Homo sapiens: one gene and its partners. The protein of the gene in region 3 interacts with the protein of the main gene of each other region in a pairwise test. Each region holds a gene or a part of one and is shown on either strand. Other genes may lie near its edges.

What was found.
Region 1: the proteins of PIAS2 (region 3) and HNRNPUL1 interact in binary tests that used the Homo sapiens proteins (3 or more experiments, as listed by UniProt).
Region 2: the proteins of PIAS2 (region 3) and NME7 interact in binary tests that used the Homo sapiens proteins (3 or more experiments, as listed by UniProt).

The regions. Positions count from the first base shown.
Region 1 is NC_000019.10:41,277,872-41,281,527, forward strand, and holds part of HNRNPUL1 (heterogeneous nuclear ribonucleoprotein U-like protein 1), read left to right. Parts: intron 1-1,205; coding exon 1,206-1,305; intron 1,306-3,291; coding exon 3,292-3,404; intron 3,405-3,656.
Region 2 is NC_000001.11:169,322,789-169,326,444, reverse strand, and holds part of NME7 (nucleoside diphosphate kinase homolog 7), read left to right. Parts: intron 1-1,944; coding exon 1,945-2,052; intron 2,053-3,161; coding exon 3,162-3,328; intron 3,329-3,656. UniProt on the Homo sapiens protein: Possesses an intrinsic kinase activity. Displays 3'-5' exonuclease activity with a preference for single-stranded DNA. Does not seem to have nucleoside diphosphate kinase activity.
Region 3 is NC_000018.10:46,886,476-46,890,131, reverse strand, and holds part of PIAS2 (E3 SUMO-protein ligase PIAS2), read left to right. Parts: intron 1-3,656. UniProt on the Homo sapiens protein: Functions as an E3-type small ubiquitin-like modifier (SUMO) ligase, stabilizing the interaction between UBE2I and the substrate, and as a SUMO-tethering factor.

The DNA of each region.
Region 1 (3,656 bases), on a different chromosome or scaffold from region 3:
TGTCTGAAAAGCCAGTGAGGCCACAGGTAGATACGGATATTCGGCAGTCTAGTCTTTTAATACGAAATTAAGTCAGAAGGCTTTTTTTTTTTTTTTAACTTAATACTGTATCTTGGACATTTTTCCATAGCAGTACATTAGCCCAATGTACTGCTTTGCTCCTTGTTTTTTGTTTGTTTGATTGTTTGTTTTGTTTGTTTTGTTTTGTTGACGGAGTTTCACTTGTTACCCAAGCTAGAATACAGTGGCGCAATCTCTGCTTACTGCAACGTCTCCCTCCTGGGTTCAAGCGATTCTCCTGCCTCAGCCTCCCAAGTAGCTGGGATTACAGGTGCATGACGCCACGCATGCCTAATTTTTTGTATTTTTAGTAGAGACGGGGTTTCATGATGTTGGCCAGGCTGGTCTCGAACTCCTGACCTCAGGTGATCCACCCACCTTGGCCTCCCAAAGTGCTGGGATTACAGGCTTGAGCCACCGTGCCCGGCCTACTTTGCTCTTTTTAACTGTTGCATCATATTTTGTGGCATGGATATACCATAATCAGTGCTTTATTGATATTTTTTCTGATGTTAAAATATATATATATATATATATGTGCACATATATACATCCAATGCTGCACAGAATGTTGCATATACAAATACAGTCACACATACGTAGACATACTTGTCCACATATTAGTGTATCTATAGGATGCTGAGTTATAGAGCATGTGCATTTATGGGGTTTTGTTGTTTTTTTCTTTTAATGTTTTTGTAAAGATGGGGTCTTGCTATGTTGGCCAGGCTGGTTCCTAACTCCTGGCCTCAAGCCATCCTCCTGCCTTGGCCTCCCAAAGTGTTGGGATTACAGGTGTGAGTCACCATCCCCAGCCATTTACAGTTTTGATAGAGACTTCTAGATTGCCCTCTAAAGACACTGTAACAGTTTATCTTTCTACTAGATGTTACAAGAGTCTCTTAAACTAAAACATAACCGTATTTTGAAATGCCTGTCTCTGTGGCCCTGTACTCTACTGATCCCTTTGGAGGCCCTGGCTTCGATTCGGTTCAACAGGCTTTTCAGAGCTGCTTAAACGCTTCTTCTCCAGCAAGAAAAGCCATTGCTATTTTTTAATGCCTGATATGCTTCCCTCCTATATTGGCTCATAACCTACGGCCTCCAGAGAAGCAACCCTGAGCCCTTTTGTCCTCTTTCCTCAGATCAATGAGGAAATCTCCGTGAAGCACCTTCCGTCTACAGAGCCTGACCCCCACGTGGTCCGTATCGGCTGGTCCCTGGACTCCTGCAGCACCCAGCTAGGTAAGGAGGGGTCAGCTATGCAGTCCAGAGAATAGAGTGACTGTCCCTACCCTTGGATTTTCAAGGCTCCTAAGCTTCCTTTTCCAGCGTCAGACTTAGAATAGAACTAGGCTGAAGTGGAACAGGTACAAGGATTAGGTATATGCCACTGTCTCTGTCATGCTGTATTCAACTGAGAGGACTATGGTCATGAAACAACTTTTCTGTGAAGAATCAATTCTTATCCTTCATCTTTTAGGAGAGGGTCCAAAATTCTCTTTAGGAATCTATTCCCTTTCTGTAAAAAGGATCAGTGTCTCCTGCCCTTAAACCAAGCTGCTGATAAGTTCCCAAGCTCCATTAAGTTCTGTCTGTATTTTCTGTCCGGAGCCTAACCTAGAGGAAAAAGGGGAGCAGAGACCAGTGAGGCCAGGGCTAGTTGGGAGAGGGGCAGGGGCTGCCTATTGAAAGGTTTTGAATTTTGCGGGTCCCCAGGCTTCAATGACCTTCTGGTCCCAAGTGACTGATTATTCTGACCAATGCTGACACCTCCTGCCTTCCGTTTATGATCATACAAACGTTCCAATTATGAAAATAATATGTGTTGCGTATAAGAATTCAGGCCATACAGAAAGGGAAAAATGAAAATCCTTCCTAAACCTGTGAGAGAAACTAACCAATGTTAACATTCCATTTGTAGTCTTCTGGACATTTATTTTTTTGTACATCTTTAAACTGGATCACACTAGGACTACTTTGTATAGCCTTGTTTTAATGTATGATGGGCATATTTTTGTAAATAACTGCAGCTTTTTGACTACTGCATAATTTTCCATTTTATAGTTGCATTATTTAACAAGTCCCCTTCTGTAGCTCATTTAAACTTATTGCAAATTTTTGCTGTTTTAACACTTGAGCCATTATCCTGGTCCATAATTGCCTGACCACTTAAGACTAATCTTTAAAAATAGATGATATTCTCACTCACAAGTGTTTGTTTAAAAAATATGTTCACATGGACTTAGAGAGTGGAATAATAGATAATGGAGACTCAGAAGTGTTAGGGGGTAACAAGGTGGAGGAGGATGAGAAATTGGTTAATGGGTACGATGTACATTTTTTAGGTGATGAACACCCTAAAAGCTTGACCACTATGCAATCTGTGCATGTAACAGAATTGCACATGTACCCCATAAATTGGTACCTCCTCAAAAAGGTAGATATGTTAGCACCAAAAAAAAAAAGTATACAGTTTTCATTTCCATATGTGTTAGCACTTTTTATTTAAGACTCATAAGTCATCTCATCTTATCTCTGTCTCCGTTTTGAGATGTAGGTGGTGGCAGTTGATAGGGATGGGGAAACAGCCCAGGAGGTCAAGCACCATATCCAGGGTCACATAGCTGGTTTGTAGCAGAACGAGCCCTGGCATTCATGCTTGTCGGCCCCTGCTTTTCTAACAGCATACTCTTTGGGTTCTGCCCGGAATCTCTAACTCAGGTGTCAGCCAGAGCCCTTGGGATCTCTCAGTCATATCACTTCAGCACCCAGTTCTGTAGCCTGAGGAAATCTAGTACCTTTCCCAGGGGTCAGTCCTCATGGTCTCCAGGAGCAAAATCCAGCCCCTTCACTGATTTCTACCACAAGTAGACTGGACTGAATATTGGGTGTCACAAGGAAGGGTTGCATCTCAGCATACAGCCATTCTCCTCCATCCCAACTCCTGTCTTCCTTCCTCCCTTTCTTTTCAAATTCTCCCCTCTGTGCAGAGTTATTCAGTTGAGCTCCTACTCCCAGACTGGACAATGAAACCCATCAAGCCCTCCAAGTTCTACATCATTAAGGGCTTCCTTTCACCCTTCCCCACCCCTATTTTAAAAAGGCATCTGATTAATAAAACTAGTAAAGAAAATGATTTTTTTCTTCAAAAATAAAAGTATGTGGCAGCCATTGAGGCTGTTATGACCATCGCAGGTTTAACCTGCCTTTGCCTATTTCTTCCGTCAGGCGAAGAGCCTTTCTCCTATGGCTATGGAGGCACTGGGAAGAAGTCCACCAATAGCCGGTTTGAAAACTACGGAGACAAGTTTGCAGAGAACGATGTGATTGGCTGCTTTGCGGTGAGTGCTAGCAGCCTGTGGGAGTTGGCAGAACCAGATGTTGGGCTACAGACTTCTTTTTCAGGATACCTCTATCCATTGTCTGCCCCATATCCAGCCACTCTCGCCATACTTCTTTGTCTCTGCTTGACAGACTGGAATGTTTACTGTCATTTTGTGGGAAATTCTGTCATTCCATCTCCTCTGGTCTTGTGTGCAAAGTTTTCAGATGACACCCTGAAGAGGTTTGGGGACTTCAGGTGTGCATAGCCT
Region 2 (3,656 bases), on a different chromosome or scaffold from region 3:
TTGGTTTCACTTCAATGGGCTTCCTGTCTTTCTGGATCTTGGATCCTCAGATCCTGGCTGCCTTAAAAGCTCTCCAAATCTTTGATATCCTACTTTTCTAGTTGTTCTTAGAAGTAGCATTGGTTTGCTGTGAGCTACTTTGTCATAGCCAGAAGCAACAGTTCCTCAGTTTATTTTCTTTGTATTAAAACTCTTTTCTGGATAGAGTATAGTGCAAAATTCTGCTGCCCAATTCAGAATTAAAGAGTGTGGTTGGCAGGTTTGGTGGATAGGCTACATGGATAAATGGAAGTACCAGGTTTCGTGGATTTTTCATTTGCTTTAGTTAGATGTGTCATTTCTTCTATTTTATATTTATTTTAGTGAAGGCAACATTTCAATTATGTATTTAAATAAATATTTTATTATGGATAGTAAAAATTTTAATAATCTACTAATATTTAAATTTTTATTTGTAGGTGAGTACAATACTAGAATGCACAGTGAAACCTAAACTCAAAAAAGCTGTATTGTTATAATCAATATGAAAAATATATATGATGAAAGGCTTTTACAAATGTCATAGTATGTCTCTTATTTTACATTTATTTTCTCTTGAGTAATCAGCATGGTTTAAATATGTCTTTGGATGATTGTGGGAAAAATAAAAGTGTCTTAAAAATAAAAGTGTCATCTACGTTATAGTTTATGGATATATTATAAACATCATTAGACACACAACTTCTACCATTAGAATTTATAAGTCAATTATTAACTTAAAAAGAACCCCCAAATTTTCCCTAACCAGAGCATCAGATGGCAAATCCAGAATTAGCAATAAAACTCCTAGATTCCCTTCTTCCCTATGCTTTTATTTGCTTATTATAATGAAGATCTTTGGGGCGAGGGTATTTTTACTAACATATATGATGGGAAGTCCTGCTCAATAGTCAAGGGAAAAGGACCCATCTTTGACTTATTTTTTTCATTTTTTGCTCTCTGTGGTAGCCCTAAGAGTGTACTTCACAGACCTCCAACTACAGGCAACCTAAGTGACCAAGGGTCCCAGCTGCTGTTCTCTGAAATCCACTGCTGCTTTTGTGCTGAGCACTTGCTTCCCAAAGGCTGCTCCCAGCCACTGATTGAGAGGAGCAGGGATACTAAAGCTGGCCCCTCCCTGTCCTTGGGAGTCACCTGGCTCTAGCACTTCCTGATGGGCTTACAGAACCTTTCTTAGAGGGTGTAGCAATGTGGGATGATTCCACTTAACCTTCCTTGCATCTCTCCACCACTCTGTGTCAAACTTCTATTGTTTTTATCGGCTTTTCTAGTCTTCCTTGGCTCCCTCATCATTTTATATTACGGGAATTTTCCTTAATGAAATTCTTGTATGTTCAATCTTGTCTTCACATTCATTTTCAGAGGTCCTAGACTAACACATTCTCTATTTCTATAAAAAGATACTATCATATGAAATTACTAAGGAAAAAAAAATGTTTGCTATAATTTTAATGGTAATATTCTGATACTACTAGATTCTCAAATTTAGGGAAGTCAAAACTTCATATAATTGAGAGCTCTCCTCAGAAATTTATTCTTATATTAGTTTATTGATAGTCTGTATGTAAACTTGCTTTCAGAAGGACTGAATTGTTACAATAGTAAAATCAGGAGCTCATGTTCTCAGAAAACGTTAATTTACTCAGGATGATTAGATGGCTGTAAAGTAAAAAGCAATCCATAAGTCATCTTTGAGATATCTAAGGGTATTTAGTGAGAAATTGAAAGGAAATATTGCTGAGGGTGTGTTGATAACTGATACTTTGTTGAAAAGCAGAAACATTCAATATAATAGGTAGAAGTAATTTTGTTTCTTGCATATTGGTAATTTCATTTTGTGTGACTTACAGAAGAGTGCTTGTTCTTTATATGTTAGTGTTAAAATTCTTCTGTCTTTCTTTGCAGAATCATAGTGAAAGATTCGTTTTCATTGCAGAGTGGTATGATCCAAATGCTTCACTTCTTCGACGTTATGAGCTTTTATTTTACCCAGGGGATGGATCTGTTGAAATGGTAAATAAGCCTTTCTTTGCTTGAATGTTGGCAAAGGGGGTGAACATGGGAACCATTGCCTTTTATATAATTGCTTTTTAAAAACACATTTATATGTATGTGTGTGTGTATATATACATATGGAAATTCTTTTTAAACTTATTCATTATAATTCCAATATAAGAAGTTAACTTGTGCCTTTATTTTTAATGTCAAAAATAGGAATTTTTTGTTGTTGTTGTTAGAAGACTGAAGTGGGGGCTGGGCGCGGTGCCTCATGCCTGTAATCCCAGCACTTTGGGAGGCCGACCCAGGCAGATTACTTGAAGTCAGGAGTTCGAGACTAGCCTGGCCAACATGGTGAAAACCCATCTCTACTAAAGATACAAAAAATTAGCCGGGTGTGGTGGCACATGCCTGTAATCCCAGCTACTCGGGAGGCTGAGGCAGGAGAATAGCTTGAACTCAGGAGGTGGAGGTGGCAGTGAGCTGAGATCACGCCACTGCACTCCTGCCTGTCCTGCCTGGGCGACTGCATGAGACTCTTGTCTCAAAAAAAAAAAAAAAAAAAAAAAAAAGACTGAAATGGGATTATTCATGTTTTGGATAAGAAATAAACAAGTGATTATAGATAAGGATTATTATGGTCATAAATACGTCCTCATTATTGAAAGCTGTTATTGCTACAAAAAGTCAAATTGAAGAGGCTCAAGCTAAGAGACTTCTGTTTCTTTGTGTTCTTTCACTGGCAACACAATTTTAACAAGTAGATCTTTTTGGTATTGGGATTTTGTGTACACAAGAAAGCAGAAATTTGGGTGTATGACTCTTTCTTTAGCATTTTGTAAGGACTACTTTGCTGAAATGATTTGGTAATAAACAAATCTTTCTATTCAGGTTTTTAAGAGTATTAAATTTGTAATAAGAAGCTTTTATGTTATTACCAGATTGGATTAGGAAATATGGAAGTTATTAAAAATTATGATTTATATTTGTAACAAAAAAGAAACAGAATATAACCTATCTTTGATAAGACAGAATTAAGAATTATTTCTACCTTATGATGAGATTAACTTTCCTTATTCATAACTTTTTTTGTTTGTTTGTTATATTGTTGTGTCTGGTTCTAGCATGATGTAAAGAATCATCGCACCTTTTTAAAGCGGACCAAATATGATAACCTGCACTTGGAAGATTTATTTATAGGCAACAAAGTGAATGTCTTTTCTCGACAACTGGTATTAATTGACTATGGGGATCAATATACAGCTCGCCAGCTGGGCAGTAGGAAAGAAAAGTAAGAAAACAATTATATAATCTTTTTACATGCTCTAACTTTGGGTTCAAAGTCAATCTGAATCAAGACTGGGAGTATGTAACCATATGAGGATGGATAGGACCTGGAAAATGGTTGTCTTCATTCTTTTTCTTTTTTTCAATTTAAAAAAAAATTGATAATACCATAGTTGTGCATGTCTCATCTGACTTAATTCATGTTTATGTCTCCTGTGGCACTTAGCACATCTCCATCCACATTGCAAGCACCTTGTCTGTATTAGCTGAACGAATTAATGAATCACAATTTAAAATCTATGATCTATTCTTTCCTTTTTCCACTTTCTCCC
Region 3 (3,656 bases):
TTCCAAGTACCTCATGTCGTTGGAATCATACAGTATTTGTCTTGTGACTGGCTTATTTCACTAAATGTAATGTCCTCAAGGTTCTAGCATGCTGTAGTTTATGTTAGAATTTCTTTCCTTTTAAAGGCTAAATAATACAATAGTATACATTTTTAAAGAAAAATAGTAATCTTTTGCTCACTCCACTACTCATCCCTCAATCTCACTTTCAAGAGGCAACAACCTTAATTATTTTAGCTGTTTCTTCTGGTTTTACTTCTATATTTCTGTGTTATAGGATACCACATTTTGCTTATCCATTGGACACTTGGGTTGCTCCCACATTTTAGCTATTGCGAATAATTCTGTGGACACGGGTATACACGTATCTCTTTGAGACCCTGCTTTTCAATTCTTCTGGCTGTATACCCACAAGTGGAATTGCTGGATCACATAGTCATTCTGTTTTTAGTATTTTGAGGCATCACCATACTGTTTTCCGTGGCAGCTGCATTTTACATTCCCTTCAACAGTGCACAAGGGTTCCAGTTTCTCCACATCCTTAACAACACTTTTATTTTCCTTTTTTTTTTATAGTGGCCATTATAATGGGTGTCAGGTGGTATCTTATTGTAGCTTTGATTTGCATGTCTGTAATGATGGTGATATTGTGCATTTTCATGTGCTTTTTGGCCATTTATGTATCTTTCAAGAAATGTATAGCCAAGTCTCTTGCCCATTTTTGAATTGGTTTGTTTTATTGTTGTTGAGTTTTAGGAGTTCTCTGTATATTCTGGATATAATCCCTTATCAGATATATGAATGTGCAAATATTTTCTCCCACTCTGTGGTTTGCCTTTTTTACTCTGTTGATAGTGTCTTTTGATGTACAACTTAACATTTTTTCATGAAATTCCAATTTGTTTATTTTTTGTTGTTGTTGCCTATGCCTTTGGTGTCATATCCAAGAAATCATTGCTAAACTTCATGCTGTGAAGGTTTTGCCCTGTGTTTTCCTTTAAGAATTTTATAGTTTTAGGTCTTACATTTAAGCCTGATCTCTTTTGAGTTAATTTTCGTATATGGTATTAGGTGAGTGTCCAGCTTTGTTCTTTTGTTTGTGGATATCCAGTTTTTCCCCACCATTTGTTGAAAAGCCTGTCCTTTCCCTCACTGAATGATCTTAGCACCCTTGTCAAAAAGTATTTGACCATGTATGTGAGGTTTTATTTCCAGGTTCTCTGTTCCAAGGTCTCCAACCCTCAGGCCGTGGACTAGCACCAGTCCACAGCCTGTTAGAAACCAGGTCGCACAGCGGGAGGTGAGCAGCAGGAGGTGAGCAGCAGGAATTCGAGCATTACAGCCTGAGCTCCACCTCCTGTCAGATCAGCAGTGGCATTAGATTCTCATAGGTGCAGGAACCCTACTGTGAACTGTGCATGTAAGGGATCTAGATTGCATGCTCCTTACGAGAATCTAATGCCTGATGATCTGAGGTGGAACAGTTTCATCCAGAAACCATTCCCCTGGCCTGTGGGAAAATTGTCTGCCATGAAACTGGTCCTGGCCAAAAAGGTTGTGACTGTTGATTTATTCCATTGGTCTAGATGTCTGTCTTTATGCCAGTATCACAGTTTTGATTACCGTAGCTATGTAATATGTCTTGGAATCAGGAAGAGTGAATTCTCCAGCTTTAATTATTTTGTAAGATTGTTTTGGCTATTTGGGGCCCTTGAGATTCCACGTGAATTTTAGAATGAGTTTTTCTATTTCTGATAAAAAAAAAAAATTGGGATTTTGAGAGGAATTGTAGTGAATCTGTAAATTTGTTTGGGTAGTATTGATATCTTAGCAATATTAAGTCTTTCTTTTCCCACATAGGCTGATGGGGAAAAAAAAAATTAAGTCTTCCAGTACATGAACATGAGCTGTGTTTCTATTTATTTATGTGTTCTTTAATATCTTTCAGCAATGTTTTATAGTTGTTATTGTACAGGTTTTCATTTTCGTGGTTAATTTTGAAATATTTTTTCTTTTTGATACTATTGTAAAAACTACATAATTTCCTTTTCATCATATTTATTATTAGTTTATAAAAATGCAATTGATTTTTGCGTGTTGACTTTGTATTCTGCTACTTTACTGAATTCATTTATTCTAACAGGTTTTTTGTGTGAAATCTTTAAGGTTTACTGTATATAAGAGCCTACCATCTGTGAACAGGAATAATTTTACTTCTTTCTTTTCTGTTTGTATGCCTTTTATTTCTTTTTCTTGCTTAGTTGCTCTGGCTAGAACTTACTCAAGCATTCTTATGGTGTAGAAATCAGATTGCTTCCGTGTGAATGGGAATAGATACAAATCTTATTTATTGATCCTGATTTTGTATTTTGATACTTTTCATATTTTTATAAAGGGACTTACTTTCCATTTAATGTAGCTTTTAAACTGATTTTCTAAGAAATAAACCTTTTATATTTAATTTTATTTCTAAAGTGGCACAGGGAGTTTGACATGCAGTTTTTTAGCTTTTATTTAATGCCCATCAATTGCTTACAATGTGACTAACAAATTTTTGCATTGCTGTGTTATAATTCTTACTGCCTAATGAAGTTATTTACAAATATATTTGAATTTCTTTATGAAATAAATTGGGAAGTAACATTTCATAGTTGATGTGGAAGATTGCTTTCTTTTCTTTCTTGGGAAAACCCTTTTTATTTTCAGTCATGTGAAAACACTTAAACATATCAGTGTGCTTTTTTACCTGTCTTACAGGATTGTACTGCAGCCTGTCTTGGTTAAATCGGAAGGTTTTGAGGGGTAGAGCTAGTTAGTGGGGTTAGTATGGCCTGACTAGTGGCAGGCAATGTGGCTATTTTTTTTTTTTTTTCAATTTTTTGCTTTTTGCTTTATTTATGTTTTAGCAAAACTGGTGATCCAAGCAAGTGGAGTATTGCATTTTATCTCTTTATTACGTTCACTTTGAAATAAGGATTGAGTGTTTGTTCATGTTTTATTATTTGTTTGTACAAAGTCCTATGAGTAGAATTATTGGATCAAGTAAAAAGAACGTTTTAGACTCTTGATAACATATTGCCAAATTATTTTAGTGCCAGTTTAAATTCCACAAGCAAAGTGAGAGAATGCTTGTCATATCTCATTACTTTTTGCCTTTACTGGGTGCTATTGAAAACAGATCTCTGTGATTTTTAGATGAAAACTTGTATCTTGCTTAAATTTTTATTTTTAAAATTAGTAACAGGAGCAAGTATTTTATTTTATTCGATTTTATTTGTTTTTTTTTGGAGGGGGGGGACAGAGTCTTGTTCTGTCGCCCAGGATGGAGGGCGGTGGCGCTGTCTCGGCTCACTGCGGCCTCCACTTCCCCGGGTTCAAGCAGTTCTCCTCTCTCAGCCTCCCGAGTAGCTGAGGCTACAGGCATGTGCCACCACACCGGGCTAATTTTGTATTTTTAGTAGAGATGGGGTTTCGTTACGTTGGCCAGGCTGGTCTTGAACTTCTGACCTGAGGTGATCCACCCGCCTTGGCCTCCCAAAGTGCTGGGATTACAGGTGTGATCCACTGCACCTGGCCAACAAGAGCAAGTATTTTAAATGCTTATTACCCGGTTGTCTGTCTTTTATGATTTTACTTTCATCTTTAGCCTTGTTTTT